Linked DNA regions of Homo sapiens. The protein of the gene in region 6 purifies or fractionates together with the protein of the main gene of each other region. This does not show direct contact. Each region holds a gene or a part of one and is shown on either strand. Other genes may lie near its edges. The genes, in order: RAB12, AGAP1, RAB33B, RAB10, PIP4K2C, FLCN and CREB3L2.

What was found.
Region 1: the proteins of FLCN (region 6) and RAB12 purify together in Homo sapiens (affinity purification with mass spectrometry, with the first as the bait; one study listed by BioGRID). This does not show direct contact.
Region 2: the proteins of FLCN (region 6) and AGAP1 purify together in Homo sapiens (affinity purification with mass spectrometry; 2 studies listed by BioGRID and IntAct, with this or other methods). This does not show direct contact.
Region 3: the proteins of FLCN (region 6) and RAB33B purify together in Homo sapiens (affinity purification with mass spectrometry, with the first as the bait; one study listed by BioGRID). This does not show direct contact.
Region 4: the proteins of FLCN (region 6) and RAB10 purify together in Homo sapiens (affinity purification with mass spectrometry, with the first as the bait; one study listed by BioGRID). This does not show direct contact.
Region 5: the proteins of FLCN (region 6) and PIP4K2C purify together in Homo sapiens (affinity purification with mass spectrometry, with the first as the bait; one study listed by BioGRID). This does not show direct contact.
Region 7: the proteins of FLCN (region 6) and CREB3L2 purify together in Homo sapiens (co-immunoprecipitation; one large-scale study listed by IntAct). This does not show direct contact.

Annotation. Positions count from the first base shown.
Region 1 is NC_000018.10:8,636,660-8,639,883, reverse strand, and holds the end of RAB12 (ras-related protein Rab-12), read right to left. Parts: intron 1,736-3,224; coding exon 1,622-1,735; 3' UTR 501-1,621; downstream 1-500. UniProt on the Homo sapiens protein: The small GTPases Rab are key regulators of intracellular membrane trafficking, from the formation of transport vesicles to their fusion with membranes.
Region 2 is NC_000002.12:235,492,545-235,496,842, reverse strand, and holds the start of AGAP1 (arf-GAP with GTPase, ANK repeat and PH domain-containing protein 1), read right to left. Parts: upstream 2,801-4,298; 5' UTR 2,157-2,800; coding exon 1,994-2,156; intron 1-1,993. UniProt on the Homo sapiens protein: GTPase-activating protein for ARF1 and, to a lesser extent, ARF5. Directly and specifically regulates the adapter protein 3 (AP-3)-dependent trafficking of proteins in the endosomal-lysosomal system.
Region 3 is NC_000004.12:139,457,121-139,460,620, reverse strand, and holds part of RAB33B (ras-related protein Rab-33B), read right to left. Parts: intron 1-3,500. UniProt on the Homo sapiens protein: The small GTPases Rab are key regulators of intracellular membrane trafficking, from the formation of transport vesicles to their fusion with membranes.
Region 4 is NC_000002.12:26,110,584-26,114,083, reverse strand, and holds part of RAB10 (ras-related protein Rab-10), read right to left. Parts: intron 1-3,500. UniProt on the Homo sapiens protein: The small GTPases Rab are key regulators of intracellular membrane trafficking, from the formation of transport vesicles to their fusion with membranes.
Region 5 is NC_000012.12:57,594,192-57,597,691, forward strand, and holds part of PIP4K2C (phosphatidylinositol 5-phosphate 4-kinase type-2 gamma), read left to right. Parts: intron 1-934; coding exon 935-1,031; intron 1,032-1,696; coding exon 1,697-1,840; intron 1,841-3,500. UniProt on the Homo sapiens protein: Phosphatidylinositol 5-phosphate 4-kinase with low enzymatic activity. May be a GTP sensor, has higher GTP-dependent kinase activity than ATP-dependent kinase activity. PIP4Ks negatively regulate insulin signaling through a catalytic-independent mechanism.
Region 6 is NC_000017.11:17,216,669-17,220,168, forward strand, and holds part of FLCN (folliculin), read right to left. Parts: exon of another isoform or gene 2,899-3,500; intron 2,542-2,898; coding exon 2,351-2,541; intron 515-2,350; coding exon 401-514; intron 1-400. UniProt on the Homo sapiens protein: Multi-functional protein, involved in both the cellular response to amino acid availability and in the regulation of glycolysis.
Region 7 is NC_000007.14:137,999,287-138,003,376, forward strand, and holds the start of CREB3L2 (cyclic AMP-responsive element-binding protein 3-like protein 2), read right to left. Parts: upstream 2,801-4,090; 5' UTR 2,420-2,800; coding exon 2,318-2,419; intron 1-2,317. UniProt on the Homo sapiens protein: Transcription factor involved in unfolded protein response (UPR).

The DNA.
Region 1 (3,224 bases), on a different chromosome or scaffold from region 6:
TCTCTATGAATCTGGGTGCTCCATATACCTCATGTAAGTGGAATCAGGCAGTATCAGTCCTTCTGGGCCTGCTTATTTCACTCAGCGTAATGTCTTCAAGATTCATCCGCGCTGCACATGTGACAGCATTTCCTTTCTTTTTAAGGATGAATATCCCATTGTTTGTAGAACACACATTTTGTTTATCCATTATTTTGCTGATGGACATTGGGGCGGTTTCCACCTTTCGGCTCTCGTGAACAATGCTGCCGTGGGCACTGGTGTACAAGTACCTGTTTGAGTCTCTGCTTTCGATCTTTTAGATATAAACCTAGAAGTCAAATTGCTGGATCATATGGTAGCTCTATGTTCAGCCCTTTGAGAAAACATCAAACTCTTTTCCCCAGTGGAGGACTATGCTTTTCCTGTCTAAACACTCAAAAGGATTAAGCTGTGGAGCTCATGGAGAATACTGTCATATATACAATTTATAATTGGATAAATAAATATGGCAACTCAACTTCATTCATAAATACAAAATTTTATTTGCACTTCATTAGTGTAGAAAGACCACAATGCTTTTCATACCACAACACTCAAGACACACCAAGTTATTCAAATACATAATTACTTAATTACCTTGACTAAACAAAACAGTGCAGTTTAATAAAAGATATACCAAAGATAGAGTTCACAAATTCATCATCAGACCAAAAAAAAAAAAAAAAAAAAAAAAAAAAAAAAAAAAAAAAAAAAAGAACACAGTCTAGGCTTAATCAGAATAAGCTTCACCGTAAAGAAGGGGGAAGTTTTATCATTACAAAGGTACAGAGTGTTTAGGCAAATACACGTATGTTCTTTGATATAGTAAAATGCATCTCTTTAAAATTCCTTTAAACAGGATTTGTTTAGGACAGCAGCGTGTTTTAAAATCTTTTTCTATAGTTTCAAAAACATTTCTTTCTTTATTGAATCTTTGTAGTTCTTAAAAGCATAAAGGTACATCCCTTAGGAAGCCATGAGAGAGATTCTGTGGCCTTAGGACCAAGTCAAATCCAACCCTCTAACTAGTAATATTCTACCATTATGTAACATTAATAAATAACCTTCCATGACGGCCATGAATGGAGCTTTGCTTCGTGGCAGAAACACTCCAATACTTCAGATGCTACCACTGGGGGAAATGTCTTGTAAATAAAGAAAAAGCACTTAAGATAGCTTTTTTTCAAAAAGTCTTTAGTTTTACAAATTTTCTTTAAAACGGTAAGCAAAGCACCACGTTCTCTCTTATCAGAATATCTTCTGTCCTCATAATATAATTAATAAGGACAATTATATTATTTATTTCAAGAAACATTATACCTTTCATTTCTCCCATTCTTCATATTAGAAGTACTAGGTTTCCCAGTGTATGTACACTAGACACTGGGGTAATGAATGAAATATAATAATTTGGAGGGAAATAGGTAACTTATAACCAAAACTTACCCAGGATTGCATATATGCATATTTACAAGTTAGTGTATAGCTCTGACTTGGATTACAAAGTGCGAAAGGAAATTGTCAAAATGATTGTAGTGCAGAATAGAACGTTTTTTCCCCTTTCCAGGAATCATTTCCACTTTGTCTCCAAAGTAGGAAATCAACAGCATCGGACATGTGGTCTTGGTGGAGGCAGTTCTGGCGGTATCTCAGGCTCTGGTTGTAACGACAGGATACTATTGGACAACTCATTCCTTAAAATATCCAGAGGCATCTAACGTATAAACAAACAAAAAAAAATCCGTTTTAACTTTACAAGGTACACATACAGCTGACCCTTGAACATGAGTTTCAACTGCACAGGTCCACTTATACACAGCTGCTTTTCAATACAAGTTTCACCTGCCTCTCCTGCCTCCCCACTCACCTTCTCCTCCGCCTCTGCCACCCGGAAGAGACAGCAAGACCAATCCCTCCTCCTCCTCCTCCTCCTCAGCCTACTCAATGTGAAGATGACACAGATGAAGACCTTTATGATGATCCACTTCCACTAATGAATAGTAAATATATTTTCTCTTCCTTATGATTTTCTTAATAACATTTTCTTTTCTCTAGCTTACTTTAAGAACATGGTATAAAATACGTATAACATACAACCTATGTGTTAAGTGACTGTTTATGTTATCAGTAAGGCTTCCAGTCAGTGATAGGCTTTTAGTCGTTAAGTTTTTAGGGAGTCAAGTTATACTCAGATTTCTGACTGTTTAGGGGGTCAGCACCTCTAGCCCCCTTGTTGTTCAAGGGTCAACTGTAAATGCTTTCCAAATTATACAATTATATAAAAAAAAGTATTATTATTGAAAGTCCTCCGATCGTTAAAGATCAATTAGACATTAAAATATTAAGCCAAAAAAAGCCATGTTCAAGACACTTCATATCACAACATGAACAATGCCCAGCCTGCTTAATACCCTATGGTAGAAGAGAACAGATCAACCTCATAAACATATATTTTCACAGAACCAGGCAAAATAAAAATACATTAATAAATTTTAAAAATGGTCTGCATTCCAAGGAGTTGCATACTTACTAAAGACAGACATAACCTACCTTGGCAATTATATAAACTTTTTTTTTTTTTTTTAAATAGAGACAGTGTCTCATTCTGTCACCCAGGCTGGAGTGTAGATACGATCATAGCTCACTGTATCAAATTCCTCAAATTCCTGGGCTCAAGCAATCCTCCTGCATCAGCCTGGGTAGCTGGGATTACTACAACCAGGTACATGCCACTACACCTTGCTAATTTTTAAATTTTTTTTGTAGAGATGGGGCTTCACTGTGTTGCCCAGTCTGGTCTTGAACTCCTGGCCTCAAGTGATCCTCCCACCTTGACTTTCCAAAGTGCTGGGATTATAGGTGTGAGCTACCACACCCAGCCTAAACAATTACTTTATTAGAAGCTTCTGAATTATGTATGAACTGAGCAAATTTCACTTAATAACATAAACTTCAGTTCTTATTAACAATTTTTGAATGTAAGCCTAAAGATGCCTGAAGAAACTGCTGCTGCTCAATGAAGCTGTCTAGCAATTTTCTTGCAACTCAGCATCATGGAAAGGTCTCTGTAAGGAAGTGGCTCCCACCAGGGAGCAGAACAGGAAGGGATGCAAGCGCAGCACCACGGGGCTCTCTTTTCCGCTAAGACACCTGCAGACTTGGCTAGGTCTCCAACTGAATTCTCACAGAAAAACGGGGGTGGG
Region 2 (4,298 bases), on a different chromosome or scaffold from region 6:
GCCTAAAATCTCAAATCGCAAAGGTAGGCATCGTGCTGTCAAAAAAAACCATCATCTAGGAACGACGCATTTTTTTTTTCTTTTAAGGGAGAAAGGAAAATGCAACCACATCCTCTTGCTAGAAAGTCAAACTGCTTTGCTGGAAGTGCTTGAGCCCCAGAGCTCAGCTTCAAGAATGGGAAATAAAAACGAGGTGTTGTGAACCCCACTCAGCCAGAGGTCTTCATGCAGCAAAAGAGGCTCTCAGCCAGGTGCCTTCAATACCTGACGCCGGCTTTCACAGTGTTTCATCAGACTTCTGTGGATGCAGCCAGAGAGCCAGGAAGAACCATCTGAAATGAGCACCGTGCAGCCTTCACAGCTCCCGTAACAGACGCAGAGCTGGAGCTCTGGAGGAACCTTGCTGCAACACCACCTGATCATCAGCAGATGGGTCCAGGTCCCACCGCCACTCATCACGAGTCATGCAGAGGCAGACAGAGCCCATCTCTTGAGGAATCCACAGAGCATCTTAAGTCACCAACAAGGCAGCCAGGTGACCTCATGGGAGACAGATACACACAAAGGGCTAGGACCCCATAAGGCTGGAGCTCCACCCGGATCCTCCCCTGGAATTAACAAGTCCCCCAAGGGTATAGTCTGCCAGTCATCCAGCCTGGCTGGGACATGGTTCAAGTCTACAGGGCTGCCAAATGCCAAGGGCTCAGCAACACAACATCCACTTTCTCCACCTAACTGGCCAAGTTTCAAACCAAAGCACTTCGGGGTTAGTAGTTCAGACTACATAGTGCCAAGGCAAAGCCTCTCTGTGGGCTGATACCCTCTCCCTCACAGAGGGAGGAGGCTGGGCAACGCCAGCACCAGGCTTTCAGGCACATTCCTGCCGGCTTTGGGCCATTCTCAATGTTCCTCAATAGAGGTCTTACCGGCCAGTCTGTATTATGGACAAGCCACTCTGCAGGCTTTTTACCATCACTGGCCAACAGCGCTGAGAAGGGAGAAAGTGCTGATCAACTGTGGCTAAGATATGACTCCACACTGTCCACGCACATGCCACCTGGTGCCCCAGGTGAGTCTTGGCCGGACCAAAGGGATGAAGCAAGAAAATAAATCAGCAGCCTGGAAACAGAGAAATGAGAGCCACCAGAAATCCAGAGGGCACAGCCCCGGAAGGCAGACTGCTGCTGTAGCTCTCCTGGAAGGCCATGGCCCTGCCTGACATGCAGAGGGAAGCGGGTGGGGATTCTGCCCAAGCATCCTGCCCCTCTTAAAACCACAGCACCCTCCACTTCAGTGGCCTCCAACTGCAGACATATGAAAGCGAGACCCTTCCGCTGGAGGACGCCCTGCCCTCCTGGTAGGGTTCTTCCTCTAATCCAACCCCGGACTTTTGGTTGGTACAAAGCACACTACCGGTTCCAGCGTTTGCACAGGGGCACCTGGACACGATGCTCCCGCGGCTAGGGCTGGCTCTCGGCATCCACTAAGTTCAACTGCACCCCTGAATTAAGCAAACACACTAAGGAGGGCAGCCCTGCACCGCCCAAACACGCCGGCCCGGGCCTCGCCCCCAGCGGCAGCACTTCTCAGAACACGTCTTCAACGTCCAGCAAGACGCCCAGGCCTGGCCTGGTAACCTGTCAGGGGTCGGGTGGCGCCGACCCCGCCGGCTGCCCCCAGGCGTCTGCTGGGCCGGGACGCTCCGGCAGCCCAGGACGCGGAGGCACCGAGCCACTTTCCCGCAGGAGAGACTCTATTGTCCACGATCAAATTAACGCTGACGATCTATCTTCCTGGCGGAGCTCGCGGCGCGGCGGGGCGCAGGCGACGCTCGCCCGGCCTTGCAAGACAAGCAGCGCCGCAGTGCTCCCTCGGCGGAGCAGCCGCGTGCCCCGGCCGGCGTGTGTGGACACCCGCACGCACACAGCGCACACCCCCGCCGCGCCGCGGGCGTCCGTGCCTTCCCGAGGCCCCAAGGCGGCCCGGCCCTCACCTTCGATGGCGATGACGTGCTCCCGGATCTGGTTCTGCAGCACCGGCTCCTCCACGCGCTCCAGCAGCTCGTAGATGGAGTAGATGTTGGGGTGGACCGACTCGAAGCGCTGGATCTCGGCCCGGATGGCAGCCGAGTTGGCCAGCTGCTGCTGGTAGTTCATGGTGCAGGCGCCGCGCCCGGAGCCGCGCGCCCCCCGCCGCCGCCGCCCCGCGCCCCGGGGCCCGCGGGCCGCCGAGCCCGGGGCGCCGCAGCCCCCGGGGAGCCGGGCCCGCCGGCGGCGGGCGGAGGAGGCGCGAGAAGAAAGGCGCGGGCGGAGCAGGCGCGGGGCTGGCCCGCGGGCTCAGTTCATGGCCGGGACGCGCGGCCGGCGAGCGAGCGGGCCCCGGCGTCCCGGGTCAGCGGGCCGCCCGGGGGGAGCGCGCCCCCATGGAGCGCGCCGCGGCGGGTGCGGCCGGCCCCGAAGGAGGCTTGCTCGGGTGACTTCCTGAGCCGCAGCCGCCTTCCAGCCCTAGGCGCTGCTCCGCGGAGCAGCCATTAAAGCCCAGGCAGCCGCCGCGCTCCGAGCGCCGGGGCCGAGGGCCGACCCCTGGGCAGTGTGGCCGCGCTGCTCTGGGCTCCTGGCCGTGGCGTGGGTCCGCGCGCTGCGTACTGCGCCGCCCGGCGCGCCGGGGCCCCCGCGCGAGCCCGCCGTGCGCCGCCCGCCGACCTGGGACCGAGTCGCAGGCGCCTTGCAAGCCGCGGAGCCCGCTCCGAGCGCCGCCCGCCGCCTGCCCGGCCGGCCCCCTCCCTGGCACGCAGGGCTCCGGCCCACGTCGGCCCCGCCCCCGCCTTCGCCCTCGCCCGCGCCCGCGCCCGCGCCCCGCCTGCCCGCGCGCTTGCCGCCCTCCGGCCGCCGGCGCTGCGTCCTCCTCGGCGCTTCCCAGCGCGCCGGATCCCGGGGAATTGCGCCAGGCCCCGCCCCGCGCCTGCCTCTGGGCTTCCTGGGACTTGTAGTCCGCGCCCCCGGCGGGCCGGGCCAGGGGGGTGCGCGGGGTGTTCACACTGGGCCGGGGTGCGGGACCCTCCCGCCGGCCAGGCCCCGCGCCTGCCAGCTCCTGCCCGGGTTCTCGCGGCGGCCCCCGCGCCCCGGCACGGGGGAGGCTGCCCGGGAGTTCGCCCGCCGCGTTGTTGTTTGTTTCCAAGCGGCTGGCTCCAGGAGCCTCTGCGACTCGCCAGTGTCCCACGGCCTCGCTTGGTTGGCGAGCCTCCCCTTCCCGCGTTTGGTAACTTTCTGCCTCCTTTCTCAAAGTAGCACACGTGCTTTCCCTTAATACATGCGATTTCTTTCCAAAGGCGAAGCGCCTCCTGAGCCCATGCGGCGTGGGGGTCCACACTCCACGAGTGGACTGAAGTTTAGACAGGGGTGCGAGATGCGACAAAATACCACAGAGGCTTTCGAGGCATCCTTCTCCCTTACAATTTTTAAAAATCGAGCCGTGGATCTCAAGCTGCTGCCTCCTGAGCGCCGCTGCCTGCTCCACGGGGTTCCTTAGCCCCTGGACCGTCTGTCCCACCGCAATCCCCGATTTAGGTCATCCCCGGGGACCCCCCGCGGAGCTGGGACCGCACTGCAGCAGCGCTTGGAAGGCTCGTCTCGCCGCTTTGAGGCAAATGGGACCCTTCAGATTTGCGGAAGCACTGGCTGCCGGGCGGTCCCACAAGGTCCTGGATTGAGGACACTGGCTGAGTCCCTGCCCCCAGCCATCGGCGTGGTCTTTCTGAAACTCAGCCAGCCGGGCCGGCATCCCCGTTTAAAGCCTGCTGAGCCTTCACCGGCTCACATGCAGTTTGCTATGGCCTAAGCACCCTGGTATCCAGCCGTGTTGGCTTACTGGCTGGGCTCCACAACTTCCCAAAGATGTGCTGACATTTTTACCATTCCGGACCTGCTTGTCTTCTCCTTGACACTTAGGCACAGGTCATCACTCCATGCCTCGGGCTGTCCACGCATAAGTAACTCTAGTAACCAAGAGGCAGGCATGTGGCCTCACCAAACCTGACCTATCAGCAGCAGCTGATCACTTGCGCTCCTGGAAACCCCTTCTCCCAGTGCTCACCAGGGCTTCCTGCTGTGTTTCTGGCTTCACTGTCCCTTTTGTGGTTTTCTTCTACTCCCCTAACCTCTAAATATGGAGGGCCCCAGGGCTTATGGTTAGGCCTCTTTTCTTTGCTATTTGCTGTGATCGCCCCTGTCTTATGGCTTTGAATATCATACACAGGTTAATGAAGCTCATATGTATCTCCAGCTGTGACCTCACCCCTG
Region 3 (3,500 bases), on a different chromosome or scaffold from region 6:
AACCACCAATACCACATTTTAAGAAATAAAGTATCAATTTGATTCTGTTTTAAGGTAGGGTATAAGGTGACTTCATATAAAATATTTTTTGACTTATAAACATTAATTTACTTTTAATGAAGATCAACACAGAACAATAATTAGTAACCCAATTTATATTTTATATTTACACAGCATTCACTGAATGTCATCTTCATCATGCCATAAAAAAATTTAACAAAATTTCTACTATTCTCTCTAGGCATGTTAGCTACATTTTGTTCTATCCGTGCTTCCAAACTTCAACTTCATGTGCATAATTATTTCTCCTGTGTGCCAATCCGGTATTTGTAGCTGCCAATCAGTATTTCCATTTGAATATAGGATCATCTCAATAAACACATGACTAAATCATAATGTTACAGAGCCTGTCCAAATTCAATCTTCCACGTAGTCCCCCTTAGCTCCACTACCTACCTCCTGTCACCCAGACTCACAACCTCACTCATCTAGTCCTCTTCTTTCTCATCACCAACAGCCAGTTACTGAAGACTTTGGCTTTATCTTCAAAATACCTCTTCTATCACCCCTTTATTTTCCCTTATCACCTCAATTCTGGATTTCCAGAGTACCCTACCAACTGATCTCTCTGCCTCTATATATTCAACACTTTTCCCTGAGTACTTACTATGTGGTTTAAGAACTGAACTAGGCCGGACACGGTGGCTCACGCCTGTAATCCCAGCGCTTTGGGAGGCCGAGGCGGCAGATCACGAGGTCAGGAGTTTGAGACCAGCCTGGCCAACATGGTGAAACCCCGTCTCTACTAAAATACAAAAAATTAGCGGGGTGGGGTGGCAGGCGCCTGTAATCCCAGCTACTTGGGACGCTGAGGCAGGAGAATTGCTTGAAACCTGAAGGCGGAGGTTGCAGTGAGCTGAGACCATGCCACTGCACTCCAGCCTGGGCAACAGAGCAAGACTTTGTCTCAAAAGAAAAAAAAAAAAAAAGAACTGAACTAGACACTGAAAGAAGTCTATGGAATTACCAGACATGGATCCTGCCCTGAATAAAACTTAGTAAGGGAGGTAAGACAGGTATGTATGCAATGAGATAGAAATCATCTAAAGGTTCAGGTAAGGTGCTAAAAGAGTTCATAGAAGGAAGCTGACTGGAGGTGTGAGGAGACTCTTTTTTTGTTTTTAAGAGACAGGGTCTCATTCTCTTGCCCAGGCTGGAGAGCAATGGTGTGATCATGGCTTACTAGAGCCTCCAACTCCTGGGCTCAAGCAATCCTCCTGCCTTACCTCCTGAGCAGCGGGGACTGCAGGTACATGCCACCGTACTTGGCTGATTTTTTTAAATTTTTGGTAAAGATGGGGCTTCACTATGTTGCCCAGGCTGGTCTTGAATTCCTGGGCTCAAGTGATCTTTGGCCTCCCAAAGTGCCGGGATTACAGGTGTGAGTCACTGGAATCTGGCTGGCTGGAAGGTTTTTTTTTTTTTTTTTTGAGATGGGATTTGTTCTTAATAGAAACAACCCCATTAAGAAGAGGGCAAAGGACATGAACAGACACATTTCAAAAGAAGATATATCTGTGGCCAAAAAGCATATGAAAAAATGCTCAACATCACTAATCATGAGAGAAATGTAAATCAAAACCACAATGAGATACTATCTCACACCAGTCAGAAGGGCTATTATTAAAAAGTCAAAAAATAACATATGCTGGCAAAGTTGCAGAGAAAAGACAACACTTATACACTGCTGGTGGGAGTGTAAATTAGTTCATCCCTTGTGGAAAGTGGTGTGATTCCTCAAAGAGCTAAAAACAGAATTATCATTTGCTCCAGCAATCCCATTATTGGGTATACACTCAAAGGAACATAAATCATTCTGTCATAAAGACATCTACACATGTATGTTCATGACAGCACTATTTACAATAGCAAAGACATGGAATCAGCCTAAATGCCCATCAATGGTAGACAGGATAAAGACAATGTGGTATATACATACCATGTAACACTATGCAGCCACAAAAAGAACAAGATCATGTCCTTTGCAGCAACATGGAGCCGGAGGCTATTATCCTAAGCAAACTAATGCAGGAACAGAAAACCAAATACCGCACGGACACAAAGACAGGAACAACACACACTGGAGCCTCCTGAAGGGTGGAAGGTGGGAGGTGGAAGATCAGAAAAAATACCTATTGGGTACTATGCTTAATATGTGGGTGACAAAATATGTGGGTGACAAAATAATCTGTACACCAAACCCCTGTGACATGTTTAACTATACAATAAACCTGCACATGTACCCCTGAACCTAAAATAAACGTGTTAAAAAAAAAAGAGAGAGAGACAGAGACAGGGTCTGGCTCTGCTGGAGTGGCTCGATCATAGTGCTCTGTACCCTTGAACCTCCAGCAATGCTCCCACCTCAGCCTCAGGAGTAGCTGGGACTACAGGCACAAGCCACAACACCCAGCTGGAACTTTATAACATAATGGAGAATATAATATAAAGGGCACTTGAGTTAGGGGAGATAAATCTTGAAGTACAACATTAATCGGGCATTTTGGCAACAATGTACAAAATAGATTAATTGAGGACTGGGAGATCAGTTAAGCTGCTGTAACTGTTAAGCTGCTGCAACAGTTCAAAGAGAGGTTAAAAAAAGGACTTGAACTAGAATTTTGAAGACAAGACAGTTAATAGAAAGTGTGCAGGTGGAAAACCAATTGGACTCAGAGCAAAGAGAGGGGTGAGAGTACAAGGATAAGAAGGATTAAAGTAGTACAACCTAGGTGAATTTTGAATTTCATATGATTTTCATGTCATGAAATCTTGATATTTTCCCTAAACATTAAAAAATGTAAAAAATCATTCTTAGATTGTGGCCATGTAAAAACAGGCAAAAGACCATTTTTGGCCCTCAAGCATAGTTTGCTGACCCTTGTGCCGTATCATAATTCTCTGTGCTTATCAAAATGTCTTCTTTCCAGCAATTACTCATTAAATATTTGTTTTACCAGTGTGGGGAGAGGTCCTGATTATTTTCCTTTAGTTAATATTAACATTTTGCACTTAACATGGGAACATTTCATTTCTACCGCTACAAAAAAGTAAGCTACTAAAATGTTCAAGTAGGACCTGCTGACCTCTAATGGGAGGCCGGATTAAATACAACACCAGGCTTTAATGGGTTGGTGTGTCTGCCACTGGAAAATGATTGTGCTAAAGGAATACAATTAGTCATGAAGGGGATATACACACGAGGAAGGAGCATAAGGATTAGAGTTAGGAGTCTCAATTTAAAAGCCGAATGTATTTGTATTTAAGGAATTTAATTTTATAATTTTATTCGACTTCCAAAATTTTGCAAACAAGATTTTCCTCTTTCAACTACCTGCACATACTGCTTAGGAATGGATTAGCAGATATAGGCTTTCTTAAATTTCATAAAACATTTTAACGGATTCTGAAAGGGCACTGTTGTTAAGTCATGCTTTCTG
Region 4 (3,500 bases), on a different chromosome or scaffold from region 6:
ATTTCTTTCAACAATATTTTGTGGTTTTCTGTGTTCAAGTCTTACACTCTTTTGGTTAAATTTACTCCTAAGTATTTTTTGCCTTTTGATATTATTACAAATGGAAATTTATTCTCAATGTAATTTTTAGGTTATTGCTAGTGTACAGAAATAAAGCTGATTTTTATATGTTGATCTCATTTCTTGTAACCTTGCTGAACTTGTTTATTAGTTCTAAGAGTTTTCTGGGTATATGTTTGTGGGTTCTTAAGGATTTTCTATATAAAATATTCTACCATTTATAAATAGTTGTTTCACTCTGGATGGCTTTTTTTCTTTCTTTCTTTTTTTTTTTTTTTTTAGCTCTGGCTGGAACTCAGCATAATGTTGAACAGAAGTGGCCAGAGTAGATATTCTTGCCATGCTCTTGATCTTAGGGGACAGGTACAATAATAGCTGTGGTATTTTTATAGATGTCACTTACAGGATTAAGGAAGTTCTTTGCTATTCCTAGTTTGTTGACTTTTTTTTGAGACAGAGTCTTGCTCTGTCGCCCAGGCTGGAGCACAATGGCACGATCTTGGCTTACTGCAACCTCCACCTCCTGGGCTCAAGCGATTCTCCTGCCTCAGCCTCCCGAGTAGCTGGGGTTACAGGTGTTTGCCATCACACCTGGCTGATTTTTGTATTTTTAGTAGAGACGAGGTTTCACCATGTTGGCCAGGCTGGTCTCGAACTCCTGACCTCAGGTGATCCACTTGCCTCGGCCTCCCAAAGTGCTGGGATTTACGGGTGTGAGCCACTGCGTTTGGCTGACTGTTTTAATCATAAAAGAATGTTGGATTTTGTCAAATGTTTTTTCTGTGTGAACTGAGATAACTGTATGGTTTTGTCGTCTATTAATATGGTGTATTACATTGACAGGTTCTGACCCTTGCATTCCTGGGTAAGTTCCTCTTGATCATGTTATATAATCCTTTAATACACCAGAGAAACAAGATTTCCTCTTTCTTTCTTTTTGAGACGGAGTTGCACTCTGCTGCCCAGGATGGAGTGCAGTGGTGCAATCTTGGCTCACTGCAACCTCCTCCGCCTCCTGGGTTCAAGTGATTCTCCTGCCTTGGCCTCCTGAGTAGCTGAGACTACAGGTGCCCACCATCATGCCCGGCTAATTTTTTGTGTTTTTCATAGAGACAGGGTTTCACCATGTCGACCAGACTGGTTTCAAACTCCTGACCTCAGGTGATCCGCCTGCCTCAGCCTCCCAAAGTGCTGGGATTACAGGCATGAGCCACTGCGCCTGGCCAAGATTTTCTTTTTAAATAACTTCTTTTCTTTTTCAGAGACAGAGTCTCACTCTGTCACCCAGGCTGAAGCACAGTGGTATGATAATAGCTCACTGCAGCCTTGAATTCTTGGGCTCAAGCAATCTTTCTGCCTCAGCCTCCCAAGTAACTGGGACCACAGGTGTACACCACCACACCCACAATTTTCCTTTTTGATACCTGGGTTGTATGTTTCTCAGTTTATCTTGGGAAACAAACCATCCAGTCTACCATGTCAGATGTTTAAGTCTGCGGTATAATAAAAACATATATTAGGTCTTTGTTCCCAGTTCCTGTCACTGACCTCCCAATTTCCTGAGTGACAGGGTTGTCTTTTGTTATTCATAACAAGATTCTTTTGACTATAATGAGTTTATGCTAATGAGGTGACTGATGACAAGGCTCCTATCTAGCTTCAGAATGGGGGCTGGTCTCCAGAGGAACCAACCAAGTGATAAGAGGATTGGAAATTTCAGTCCCACTTCCTGACCTCCTAGGAGGGGAAGGGAGACAGACATTACACTCAATCACCAGAAGTCAATGATTTAATCAATTATGCCTAAGTGATGGAACTTCAATTCAAAAATCTGAAAAACTGAGGGTAAGGAATATTCCAATTCGGTGAACACATCAAGGTGCTGGGAGAGGTGGCGTATCCAGAGAGGGGATGGAAGCTCTGGAGCCCTGCCGCTACTCCCCACATATGCCTCTCTTCCATTTGGCTGTTCCTGAATTGTATACTTTATAATGAAACTGTAATCCCAAGTATAGCATTTTCCTAAGTTCTATGACTCACCCTAGCAAATGATCACATGGAGTGGCATTGTTGGCATCCCCAAAATCTATAGCCAGCTTGGACAGAAGGCAGAAATGTGGGTAAGCCTGGGGACCCAGGACTTGCAAATGGCATCTCAAGTGAGGGCAATTTTGTAGGAATGAGTCCTTAAACTTGTGGAGTCTGATACTAATTCAGGGTAGTCAGTGTCAGAATAGCATTGAATAGCAGGACACCAGTTCATGTGGTAGAATCAGAGAATTGGTGGTTGTTGGAAACACACTGCAGAATCTCTAAACTGCTCTTACTACAGACTACTTACCTGAACAATAAAATAAAGAATAAGGAAATCAAAATAAAGCTTTTTTGTTTTAAGATTTGTATTTTTTTTTTTTTTTGAGATGGAGTTTCGCTCTTGTTGCCCAGGCTGGAGTACAATGGTGCGTGATCTCAGCTCACTGCAACCTCCACCCCCTGGGTTCAAGCGATTCTCCTGCCTCAGCCTCCCAAGTAGCTGGGATTACAGGCATGTGCCACCCCACCCAGCTAAGTTTGTATTTTTAGTAGAGACGGGGTTTCTCCATGTTGGTCAGGCTGGTCTCGAACTCCTGACCTCAGGTGATCCGCCCACCTCGGCCTCCCAGAGTGCTGGGATTACAGGCGTGAGCCACCGCGCCCAGCCAAGATCTGTGTATCTTTAAATAATTATTAAAAAATAATAAGCTTCTCCCAAAGATTTATTGTAGCAACAAAACAGTGGTAATGAGCCCTTAGGATTGCTACCATTAGGGGTATTATCTTGGGTCTAATATTGGTTTAAGACTTGGTCTTTGTGTATCTGGCCAAAATTTGCTTCAAAGAGTTACTGTTAACAAAACTCAAAGCCTAGAAGGTAGCAATAAGGCATGAAAAACAACTCTTAACAAGAAGCCACCTATGCTGTAGCAAAGAAACAGACATGCTTTGATACATAATTTTAACTTATAAAAAGTAACATCAGGCTGGGTGCAGTGGCTCATGCCTGCAATCCTAGCACTTCAGGAGGCCAAGGTGGGCAGATCACTTGAGGCCAGAAGTTCAAGACCAGCCTGGCCAACATGGCGAGACCCCATCTCTACTACAAATACAAAAATTAGCCGGGTGTGGTGGTGCACACCTGTAATTCCAGCTACTCAAGACACTAAGACACTAGAATCACTTGAACCCAGAAAGCAGAGATTGCAGTGAGCCAAGATTGTGCCACTGCACTCCAGCCTGGGTGATGAAGTGAGACTCTATCTCAAAAAAACCCAAAATACAGAAAAAAAAACAACATTTTCACATGCAATGGAACTATTTTCTTAGTTAGGTTTTTACTATATTAGTATTCCATATATTTCAAAATGCCTAGAAGCAATATTATATTTCTATAACATGAAAAA
Region 5 (3,500 bases), on a different chromosome or scaffold from region 6:
TCAGTGAGTTGAAAATTTAACATCCTTCCCAAATGCAGAAATTAGTTTTGTGCAAGGAAACCATGAGAATAATTTCTGGTGTTCCCTATATCCTTATATGAATCAGTGTTATCTCTCCTCTAGCCTGGCAATTCCATAGAGTAAATATGTACAGATACCATTACCTGCTCTTTCTCTCTTTTTCTGCTTGTGACCTTGGAGATGCCATGAGAACCATTAGCTTCTGACAGGGACTCCTTGAAAGAAAAACTTGAATTCTCTACTAAGCCCTCCTAGGAAAAGAAGATGCCATTCAAAACAGTGGTGTCTGTTGCTGACTTTAGAATGCTTCTGACTTGCTTGAGATTTGGGAAATGCTGCTGTTTGGATGGGTAGTAGATCCTGGCTCTACTATACCACTTACCAACCATGTTACTTAGGCAGGTCACTGAATCACTCTGAGACAGTCTCCTCTTCTATAAAATGGAAATAATATGTTTTTATAGGACCTCACAAGGGCCAGGCGTGGTGGCTCATGCCTGTAATCCCAGCAGTTTGGGAGGCCAAGGCGGGTGGATCACTTGAGGTCAGGAGTTCGAGACCAGCCTGCAAACATGGCAAAACCCTATCTCTACTAAAAATACAAAAAATTAGCCAGGCATGGTGGCGCATGCCTGTAGTCCCAGCTACTTGGGAGGCTGAGGCAGGAGAATTGCTTGAACCCGGGGGATGGAGGTTGTGGTGAGCCGAGATTGCACCACTGCAGTCCAACCTGGCAACAGAGTGAGACTCTGTCTCAAAAAATAATAATAACAAATAAAAATTAAAAAAAAAGGACCTCACAGGGTTTTATGAGAATCAAATGAGGTAATATGTCTGAAGGTACTTTATAAACTACCAAGTGTATGTAAATGTAATATTGTTTGTTTTCTTACTTTGAAAACCTGAATTTCAGGGAAAATCTGCCCAGTCATTTCAAGTTCAAGGAGTATTGTCCCCAGGTCTTCAGGAACCTCCGTGATCGATTTGGCATTGATGACCAAGATTACTTGGTGAGAGTCCATTAAGGGGTGAGGGTAGCCCTTTCTCCCCAGCAACTGAGGAGTACTATTTGGGACAGCCATATTTGGAGAAATGAGAGTCTTGGCAAATATAATTCTTTACCTTTTTGTGATTGCAGCATTTTCAAAAATTTAATGAAAATTATAAACCTTGTCCTTGGGGGAAAAGATGTAGATACATTAAGAATTTTGGCCAGGCGCTGTGGCTCACGCCTGTAATCCCAACACTTTGGGAGGCCGAGGCGGGCAGATCACCTGAGGTCAGGAGTTCGAGACCATCCTGGCCAACATGGCAAAACCCTGTCTCTACTAAAGATATGAAAATTAGCCAGGTGTGGTGGCGCACGTCTAGTCCCCGCTACTTGGGAGGCTGAGGCAGGAGAATCACCTGAACTTGGGAGGCGAAGGTTGCAATGAGCTGAGATCGTACCACTACACTCCAGCCTGGGTGACAGAGCGAGACTCCTTGTCAAAAAAAAAAAAAAAAAAGAATTTTGCATTCAGTTTCCTTCAGTCCACATATGGACACCTGATGAGGAACTGTGCTGAATCTCCTACCCCAGGGATTCATCCACTTTCAGCTGACCATTTTCCTATGACTTGTTTCTGCATATAAAGAGGGAGGAAAAGAGCTCTGGCCTATTCTGTGTCCCCAGGTGTCCCTTACCCGAAACCCCCCCAGCGAAAGTGAAGGCAGTGATGGTCGCTTCCTTATCTCCTACGATCGGACTCTGGTCATCAAAGAAGTATCCAGTGAGGACATTGCTGACATGCATAGCAACCTCTCCAACTATCACCAGGTCAGGCCTCTCTCTAGCCCCATTCTTTCCCTCTCCTCCCTACTCACATATAGCTCAGCTATTGTCAGTAATAGATGCCAACTGGGGAGAAAACTCATTGGAAGAGAGAATCCATAATCATATCCAGCCCTAAATGGGATGAGGGAAGCTATTCTGTCTGATAAGATTTACAGGCTGGGGGCAGTGGCTCACACCTGTAGTCCCAGCACTTTGGGAGGCTGAGGCGGGAGGATCACCTGAGGTCGGGAGTTCGAGACCAGTCTGACCAACATGGAGAAACCCCGTCTCTACTAAAAGTACAAAATTAGCTGGGCATGATGGCTCATGCCTGTAATCCCAGCTGCTCAGGAGGCTAACGCAGGAGAATCACTTGAACCCGGGAAGCGGAGGTTGTAGTGAGCCGAGATCGTGCATTTGCACTTCAGCCTGGGCAACAAGAGCAAAACTCCGCCTAAAAAAAAAAAAAAAGATTAAAAAAAAAAAGATTTACTTGGAATGTGGAGTTTATGGAATGTTTTGGCAGTAAAAACACTCTTCTTGAACATCTCTACTGAAGAAAAATTTCACCAAAATCAGTGAGCAAGGAATACATCAGAGTCCAAAAGGAGTCTTTGGTTTATGCAACAAATATTGAATACCTCTTATTAGGCCCTATGTTAGGCAGTAGAGTAGGAGGTAAATGAAACATCTGTGGCCCTTACAGATCCCTTGGTCTGATGGCAGTGACCAGTGACCCAGTATTAGCACACCGCAAGATATATACAATAGTAGAAGTCTGTACAGAATATTCTGAAGCTAGTGAAGAGCATCCGAACTCACCTGGGGAAGGAAATGCACCTGGGAGGCTAAAGAGAGTTTTTTAGAGGAGATACTGTAAGAGTTGATCCTTGAAGGACTAGTAGAGGTTAACCATTGGACAGGGTGGAAGAGCATTCTAGGCAAAGGAAAACAGCACTTGTAAGGCACAGAGCCATGAGAGAACTTGGTGTTAGAAAACAGCAAGAAATTCCATTTGGATGGGATGTAGTACTGTGGAAATAGGCAGGAGCCAGATTGTAAAGAGGCTTATAAGCCCCACAAAGAAGTTTGGACTTTATCCTGAAGGTGGTTTTGCAAGGGGCGTGATATATTTGTTATTTAGAAATATTTAGAAAATGTGACAGCGTTTTAGAGAATGGATTGGTGGGAGGGAACACTGGAAGGGTGGATACCAGTTAGGAGGTAATTTTAATAGTCCAGGGTAGAAACAATGAAGGCCTGGGGGAGCGATGGTGGTGGGGATAGAAAGGAAGACCTATGGGAGAACTGAGAGTTAAGACACAGGGGCCTCCAAGTTCCTGGTTAGGGATAACTGGGTGCCTATTCACCAGAAATTAGAAACAGAGGAACAGGTTTTTGGAGGAAGAAAGTTCTGATTTGGACATACTGAATTTGAGGTTTCTGCAATTCATCCAGATGAGGATGTCCAGTAAGTGGTTGGGGTATGTGTACAGAATTCAGGAAAGAGGATTAGACTGGGAGTATAGGTTTGAGAATTATATGTGAGTAAGTGATCATTAAAACCATGGCTATAGATACGATTATTGTAGGGAGGTTGTGTGCAGTGAAATGAAAAGAAGGTTGAGGACAGAACCTAAAGGAACAAGTGAAGAAATGAGCC
Region 6 (3,500 bases):
AGGGTCCTCCACCACCAGGTCCCTAACTCTTGTCTGGACCGCCAGTCACACACCAGCTTGTACCGCCCCTCGCTCTGTGGTGTTAACTCATATTAATGTTTGCCTGCACAGATGTTTGTCTCCTACCGCATCCCACAAAGAAGCTTTTACCAAGACTGTGTCATATGCATTTTTGTTCCCTCTCAGGCCTGGGCAGTCAGCAGGCACACGCATCCTTCTGATGATTTAAACATCATCAGACCAGACCCGGGTCTCCGTGCCCACTGCGCCCCCAGTGGAGACCGTGTGGTGCACAGCGGTTCTGTGCTGGGCAGTCGGTGCACCTTGGCATCCCCACCTGACGCCAGGCACCAGGCCAATACTGCCCTGCGCCGCACACCTAAGGAAAAGATGTTCTCACCCGAAGTACTTCAAAAGCTGACTGGACGAGGTCCACGTCTCTGCTTTTCCAGATCACCTGGTTCCCCATGAGAACGTGCCAGGCCAGCATGCGGAAAGAAGGGGCACCCAGGACCTAAACAAGAGAGTGCAGTGCTTTCAGCGTGACTAGTAGAAATGGTTTTTCTCTCCCTTCCCATGAAGTTATTTGTGTGTTCATAAAACTTTGTAGAGCAAAGACAGGGCTCAGGAGAAAGACACTTATCTTCTCAGGGAGGCGGGTGCCCGGCCCAGGGTTAAAGGGGCAGAGAGAGAAGTTCCAGGTTTGCACATAAATGCTAGATTCCAAAGCTCTTGCTCCAAGATCTTTCTCCCAGTTTTGTTTTTAAAAATTTGAAGCAAAAAGATGTTAACTTTGTGCAATATTCACCTTCTCTCTACAGACACTTTCTGCTGAACCATTTGAAAGCAAGCTGTAGGGCCCTCGACATGGCAGCACCCAGGAGAATAAGGGCATCTCCACAGCTGAGACCATGACTGCAGCCAGGAGTGCCTGGACGGACGCATCTGACATCCAGCCGTGTGCACAAGCCCAGGGCTGCTGCCTGCTTGACGGCTGCTGTTCTTTGGATCCAGGAGATACTACAGGACCCATCATGGCTTTTAGTTGTCACGTCCTTATTCTTTAACCTAGAACAGCCTCTCCCCACACCCCACCTGTTATTAACTTCCATGACATTGACACCTTAGGAGAGTCCAGCCTGCTGTCTCACGGCTTCTAAGAAGCCAAACCCAGCTTTGAAACACAACATAAGAGAGAGGCCACAATACTATGTCTCACCAAACCCCAACAGCCTCAAAGTAGTCCCACCTCCAGAGGAATTCCAGACCCCTTCCAACCTTCATCAACATAAGCAACGGACAAGGAAGGTTTCAGCCAAATGCAGGATTTTGATGGAATGGGTGTTTACATCCAGAAGCCCCAAGGACATCTGCCATGAAATCAGTCTCACTCCATTTTCAAAAACAAATAACTCTCTTCTAATGAATCAGTGCTCATTGGAAAAATTCATGCAGAAGAATTTTATAAGAAGGCAGCCTGCCCTTGTAATCCAGCAACCCACACCCCTCTCTCCCGGCATCTGACTCGATGTAACTGGAGACAACACTGTTAGATTTTGTCGTGTCTGGCAGGCACACATGTACATACATCACCCTGAACACACAGTGCCTGCTTTATTTCTTCTAATTAATCATATTCCATGGTTTGGCTACTGTTTACTAGTATGGTTTGATATGCAAGTTGTTCCTAATTTTTTGTAAGAATGACCATCACTTTCTTTTTTTTTTTTTTTTTGAGATGGAGTCTCGCTCTGTCACCAGTCTGGAGTGCAGTGGTGCCATCTTGGCTCACTGTTAACCTCCACCTCCCAGGTTCAAGCGATTCTCCTGCCTCAGCCTCCAAGTAGCTGGGACTACAGGCACATGCCACCATGCCCAGCTAATTTTTGTATTAATAGAGATGGGGTTTCACCATGTTGGCCAGGCTGGTCTCGAACTCCTGACCTCGTGATCCGCTCCCCCTTGGCCTCCCAAAGTGCTGGGATTACAGGTGAGAGCCACCACGCCCAGCCAGACCATCACTTACAATGGGCAGGGTCCAGGCTGCATCCAAACCAATTACAGTGCTGTTCAATGCCTTTAGGAGCTTCTTAGAGGATTAGAGGACCATGGGATGCCAACTATCTGGGCTTTTCTTTGAAGATACTTAGGTCATCACTGAAAGGGGAGCACTGATCCTATGGCTAATACCCCCAACGCCCTGTGCCCTCAGCCACCCACCGAGGAGGCTGTCAGTCACTTCCTGCAGGGTTTTGAAGGTGGAGGGTCCAGAGGCAAGGCGTGTGGGCAGGGACAGCCCATGACTGGCTCTCCTCCTGAGCTCCTGATGCGCTGTGCCCCTGCCGCCTACCTGCCTCATGTGCCGGAGGGACTTGAAGACTGGCAGCTTCCGGGGCTGCCAGCTCCCACAGCCTGAGAGAGAGGAGGACTCTGCCGGGCCCTGGGTCAGCTCCCGCCCTTCTGTACTCTCTGGCAACACAGGGGCTTTCTCCTCCTCTTCAGCCTCAGAGTTGTCCCAGCTTTCTGATTCCTCTTCTAAATCTGCAAGACAGATGACAAGGACAGTTACAGATACAAACAGTCTCATCCTGTGACTTCAGCCCAAGATACTTCATGGGCTGAGCCGGTCAGTGTAGATTCCTGGCTGCGGCCAGGTCCTATGCTCCCTGCTCCCTGTTGCTCTGGGAGCCCTGGGGTGGGAGGGAGGGCTCAGTTGCTGTCTACTTAGCCCGGGGTACCACACATCTCTCTTAGAAGCACTTATGGAAAGACCGTCAGCTGTTCTCTGCTGGTGAGAAAACTCAAATCAGTAAGAAAAATGCCAACAGCGTGTCTACGGAACACACCCAGTCGGCCACAGTTCTCGAGGATCTACACGTTGTTTCTTTTTTTTCCACTTTTTTTTTTTTTTTTTTTTTTGAGACGGAGTCTCACTCTGTCGCACAGGCTGGAGTGCAGTGGCGCAATCTCGGCTCACTGCAACCTCCGCCTCCTGGGTTCAAGCGATTCTTCTGCCCCAGCCTCCCAAGTAGCTGGGACTACAGGCACCTGCCACCATGTCCGGCTAACTTTTTTTGGTATTTTTAGTAGAGACGGGGTTTCACCGTTATCTGCCAGGCTGGTCTCAAACTCCTGACCTCATGATCCCCCGACCTCGGCCTCCCGGTCCACTTTTGTTTTAGCTTGAGGGCGTACGTGTGCGGCTTTGTTACAAGGGTATGCTGCGTGGTGCTAAAGTTTGGGCTTCTATGAATCCTGTCACCCAGACAGTGAACCACAGGAAGTAATATGCCCAGATAGTATCCAATAGAAAGCATTTCAGCCCTTCCTCCCCTTCCTCCCTCCCTCCCTCCTTCTGGAGCCCCCAGTGTCTACTATTCCCATCTTTTTTATTTGAGACAGTGTCTCGCTCTGTTGCCCAGGCTGGAATGCAGTGGCACGATCACGGCTTACTGCAGCCTCAATCTTCTGGGCTCAAGTGATCCTCCCAACGAAGCCTT
Region 7 (4,090 bases), on a different chromosome or scaffold from region 6:
CCCCCTCACCTTGTTCTACTTATACGTTTTCCATAACACTTATTTCATCCAACATAATCACTTCTTTATAATGTTTATTGTTTATGTTCCCCTACACACACACACACACACACACACACACACACACACACACGAATATAAGCTTCTAGAAGTCAGGGATTTTGTCTGCTTCTGTTCACTCATGTTTCCAAGTGCTTTATATATTCCACAAATATTAATCGAAAGAACAAATATCTCTCTGACTGAATGAATAATCAGGCCATCCTTTTTCTACATAAAGATTCAGCTAGAGTAACAAACAGCTCTGCCCCTGGATATCTAACAGAGTTCAGGAAACAGATGGGAAAATTATCTCCCCACCTCTCCCAAACGTCCCTTAGTTTGAGAGAAATATAACCCAATCATTTGTGCTGCTAAACCAATACCTCTTTCAACAGTAATTCATATGCACAGTTTGTTGCACTGACTTGCAGCAATGATGAGCAGCATTTTACAGGAATGAGCTGTTCACAACAGACATGTACCTAAGTGGAGGACATAATAAGCATTTTTTAAAAATAGAAATAAAAGAAAAATAATCACACATTCCTGCTTTATCACAATGACAGAAAAACTGGGCTGTTAATATCAAAGCAAATGTAAGGCCTCTACTCCCTGAAAGTGTGCATAAGGTGTTAGTTAGAGCCAGTCCAAGCAGTTCTTCCCAGAGTGAATGCCACAGTCACGGGTAGCATCTCGCACCTTTCCCTGTGAACTCACAAATGCAAGCTACAGGGCCAAAGAACAGCAAGGTAGATGCCTGTGCGTAATTCATCCCACCAGCTGAAAGACAACCCCCTAGCTGTGGCATTGCAGCTGCTGGATGAGACACTGTCACAGCGAAAGAATACTTCAAGAACAAAAGAGAAGGGCTGCCCCTCTGCATATGGATAAAATGTAGCCTGTCAGTAGAAACTCCTGGAGCACCCATTCATCAAAAGATATTTGAGGAACAACATACTCCAAGTTCTTTACTGAGGACAGGAAGCACATCTGGTACCCCAACCTCCGTGCTGCCCACATAGTGTCCCCATGACAAGCTCAGCAAGCAAAGCCCAGAAGATCACACTGAACATCTGGCTTTTGCCCCAGCATGAACTACCACTCCCTCTCAGCCCTGCACTCTGCATTTTTTTTAAACAAGCCACTCTCAGCCACCACAAATACTTCGGTGGGAATCAGCAGGGAGGCCCTCATTCCTTGTCTCAAAATAACGTCAGCCAGAGTCAAAGGCCAAAGAGGTGGAGCCTGCAGGCCATTTTGCGAAAGTTTCAAATATCTTGGTACTGACCCCATTAAAAAAGCGTGAAGGGGAAGCAGCCAAGCCTCCAGTGGTTTTCTCATTAGTGTCCCCCCTCACCCCAGCCCCACCCCCATTACAAACGTCTGCATGGATAAGAATCAAACAAAGAGATCTTGCATAAAGTCCTATGATCAGTGCTGGCTATTGAAAACAAAATTTCATTTTGCAAACTTAATACCAAAAACTTGACATTAAAAACTTTAAAAGAAATGTGCGTGCTCTGGGACAGCTTAATCCCCCAAGAGATCTCTGAGGCATTAGTATAAGACTGAACAAGCAACTGGTGAGCTGTCCCACCTTCCCCAGAGCCTTTCTTAAATATGCAACTGTCTCAGATTTTCCATACTCCTCTGCTGGTTTTTCCTCCGAAGAGGGAGGAAGGAGACTTCTTGGTCGTACAGTTTAAGAAAGCAAATAAAGCCGCCTTTCTCCCTAACGTAGAGGAGCCCTTTCAACACACACACACACACACACACACACACACACACACACACACACGTGTACTTTTTAAAATATAAATATGAAAGAAGAGGAAGGGAGGGAGAGAGGGAGAGAGAATACGAGACAGATGAAAAGGAAATGCTACTTAATCTTGTCCAGTTTTTGAAAACCTCAAAAAAAAATCAATAGCAAACTAGGCGGAGGCATGTTATTCTCAAAACACACACTCCCTCTCCCGCATTACAGTACTGTTAACAACAGCAAATGATATTACAGATGGAAAAAGCCTCAGGGAAAAAAGCATGAATTGTTAAAGGAATACAAAGTGGCATTACTCTCATGAGAAATGTAAAGGGGCCAGCTGCCCGCCTTCATCTGCTCAGACATTAAAGTACACCTCGCCCAGGACCTCTTGATTCTGACCATGCCCTGCCCCAAACCCTGCCTTCCCGGGTCCCAGGACTCCAGCTGCTCCTCGCGTGACAACACTTGCCCGCTTTGAAAGCCCTCCTGCCCCGCCCGCCGGGTCCTCACCGTGTGGTACATGAGGGCCTCGCCGTCCCCGGGCTCTGACAGCTCGCTCAGCTTGCGGTCCCACTGCAGCACGCCCTGCTCCCCGCTCTCCAGCACCTCCATGGCGGTGCGGGCCGCGCTGGGCCGAGGATGCTAAGCGCAGGAGGGGACGCGCAGAGCTGCCTCGGACCGGCAAGGTTCCTCTCTCTCCGCGTGTGCTTGCGTGTGTGCGCGCGCGTGTCTGTAGTTTTGCACTTGGAAAGCAAACGTCTGCTCCTCTGCCGGAGAGAGGATGGCCAAGCGCTCCCGTCCGGTGTCCTCGGAGATCCGAGAATCCCCAGGGACACGAGCCGGACCAAAGGCTGCCGGGGCTAAAGCGGGATGTGCATCCAAAATGAAGGCAGAAGACCCGCTCTCATCCCAGGAAAATCCCTTAGCCGCAAGCCCACTTGCCGCTACGGCTCCAGACACAAACTTTGAGGGACCCCAGGGCTCCTCGGCTCTGCTCCAGGACCCAGCTGCGGCCCCACCTCCCTCCAAGGCTTGACCAATTGGATATCCGCCTTGCCTAGCAGACCCAATCAGAAGTCTCATTCTCGGCTTTGTCCCGCCCCCAAAGGCAGAGGCCGCGGGAAGTCTCCGCCCACGCCTTGGAATGTAGCCGGGGAGTGTCTGTGACGTCACCGAGGAACTCCTCCTGCTTGAGCGCGGCCCGCTGTCTGCTGTCGCCTACAGCTGACCAATAGAGGGCTTGGGTCCGGAAGTGATGGACTGGAGGCTTGACTAATGTGAAAGGGGCGTCTGAAAGGTACAGCCAATGAAATAGCGACAAGAATACATTTTGTAAAAGAGGGAGGGTGAGTTCAGTCCTCTTGCTGAGAATCCTCAGAAATTTACCAGCGCGCCGACAGGGGGCGCGAGAGTTGTTGCGCGGGGGGCTTAAACATTTTCGAGTACTTTAGTTCATTTGAATCTCTCGGAATTTTTTTAATGGATTACATATTATACAAAAATACAAATATTCCTCATGCACATACATTTATATTAGTGCAGCTCTAGGAAATTGTCATTGTTCTTCACCTTTTTCGCCCATTTTCTGTTGGGTTCTTCTATTTTTTATGGACTTCACTTATTGTATGTTTTTCTTTCATCTGCTTGATAAGAGTCAATGGCATGCTTTTCCAGGTCCTACAGAAGTGAGCCCAGTCCTTGAATTCATAGAGCTTTTATCTCAGAGGAGTCAGGCAATAAACAAAGAAATAAACATTTAAATTCAGAAAGTGGAAATTGCTATAAAGAAAAATAAAAGCAGGAAAACAGGATGCGTCAAGATCGATGCTATTTTACGTGCTGATCAGGGAAGTTCTTCCTAAAGGAAATGAGATTTCGGGGGAAGCTGGTATTCACGTGATTGCTGGGGAGGCCAGTGTGGCTGCAGCAGAGGTGCTTGGCAGGGAGGGGTGGGAAAGGCCAGAAAGGTGAGCCAGGGCCAGAGCACCAGGCCTGCCTCCTAGAATAGGGAAGAGATGGCCTGTTCTAAAGGAATTCCCCCGAACACTGTGATTCTTCTTCCTCCTTTTTAATTCCAAAAATATAGTTTACCTATCTTAAATATAAAAGCAGGTCTTTGCCAGTTAGCTCTAGAAGTTTCTTACAATGGCACATTCAGGTATTAGCTATTGTGTTGTTTCCTTGGCAAGTATTTTTTGGCGGGTGGAGACAAATGTCTTTGAACTCTATGTTGTCTTTAAAGCAGCAGTTTATCATATAAACTATTGCATTTGTCTGGTCCTA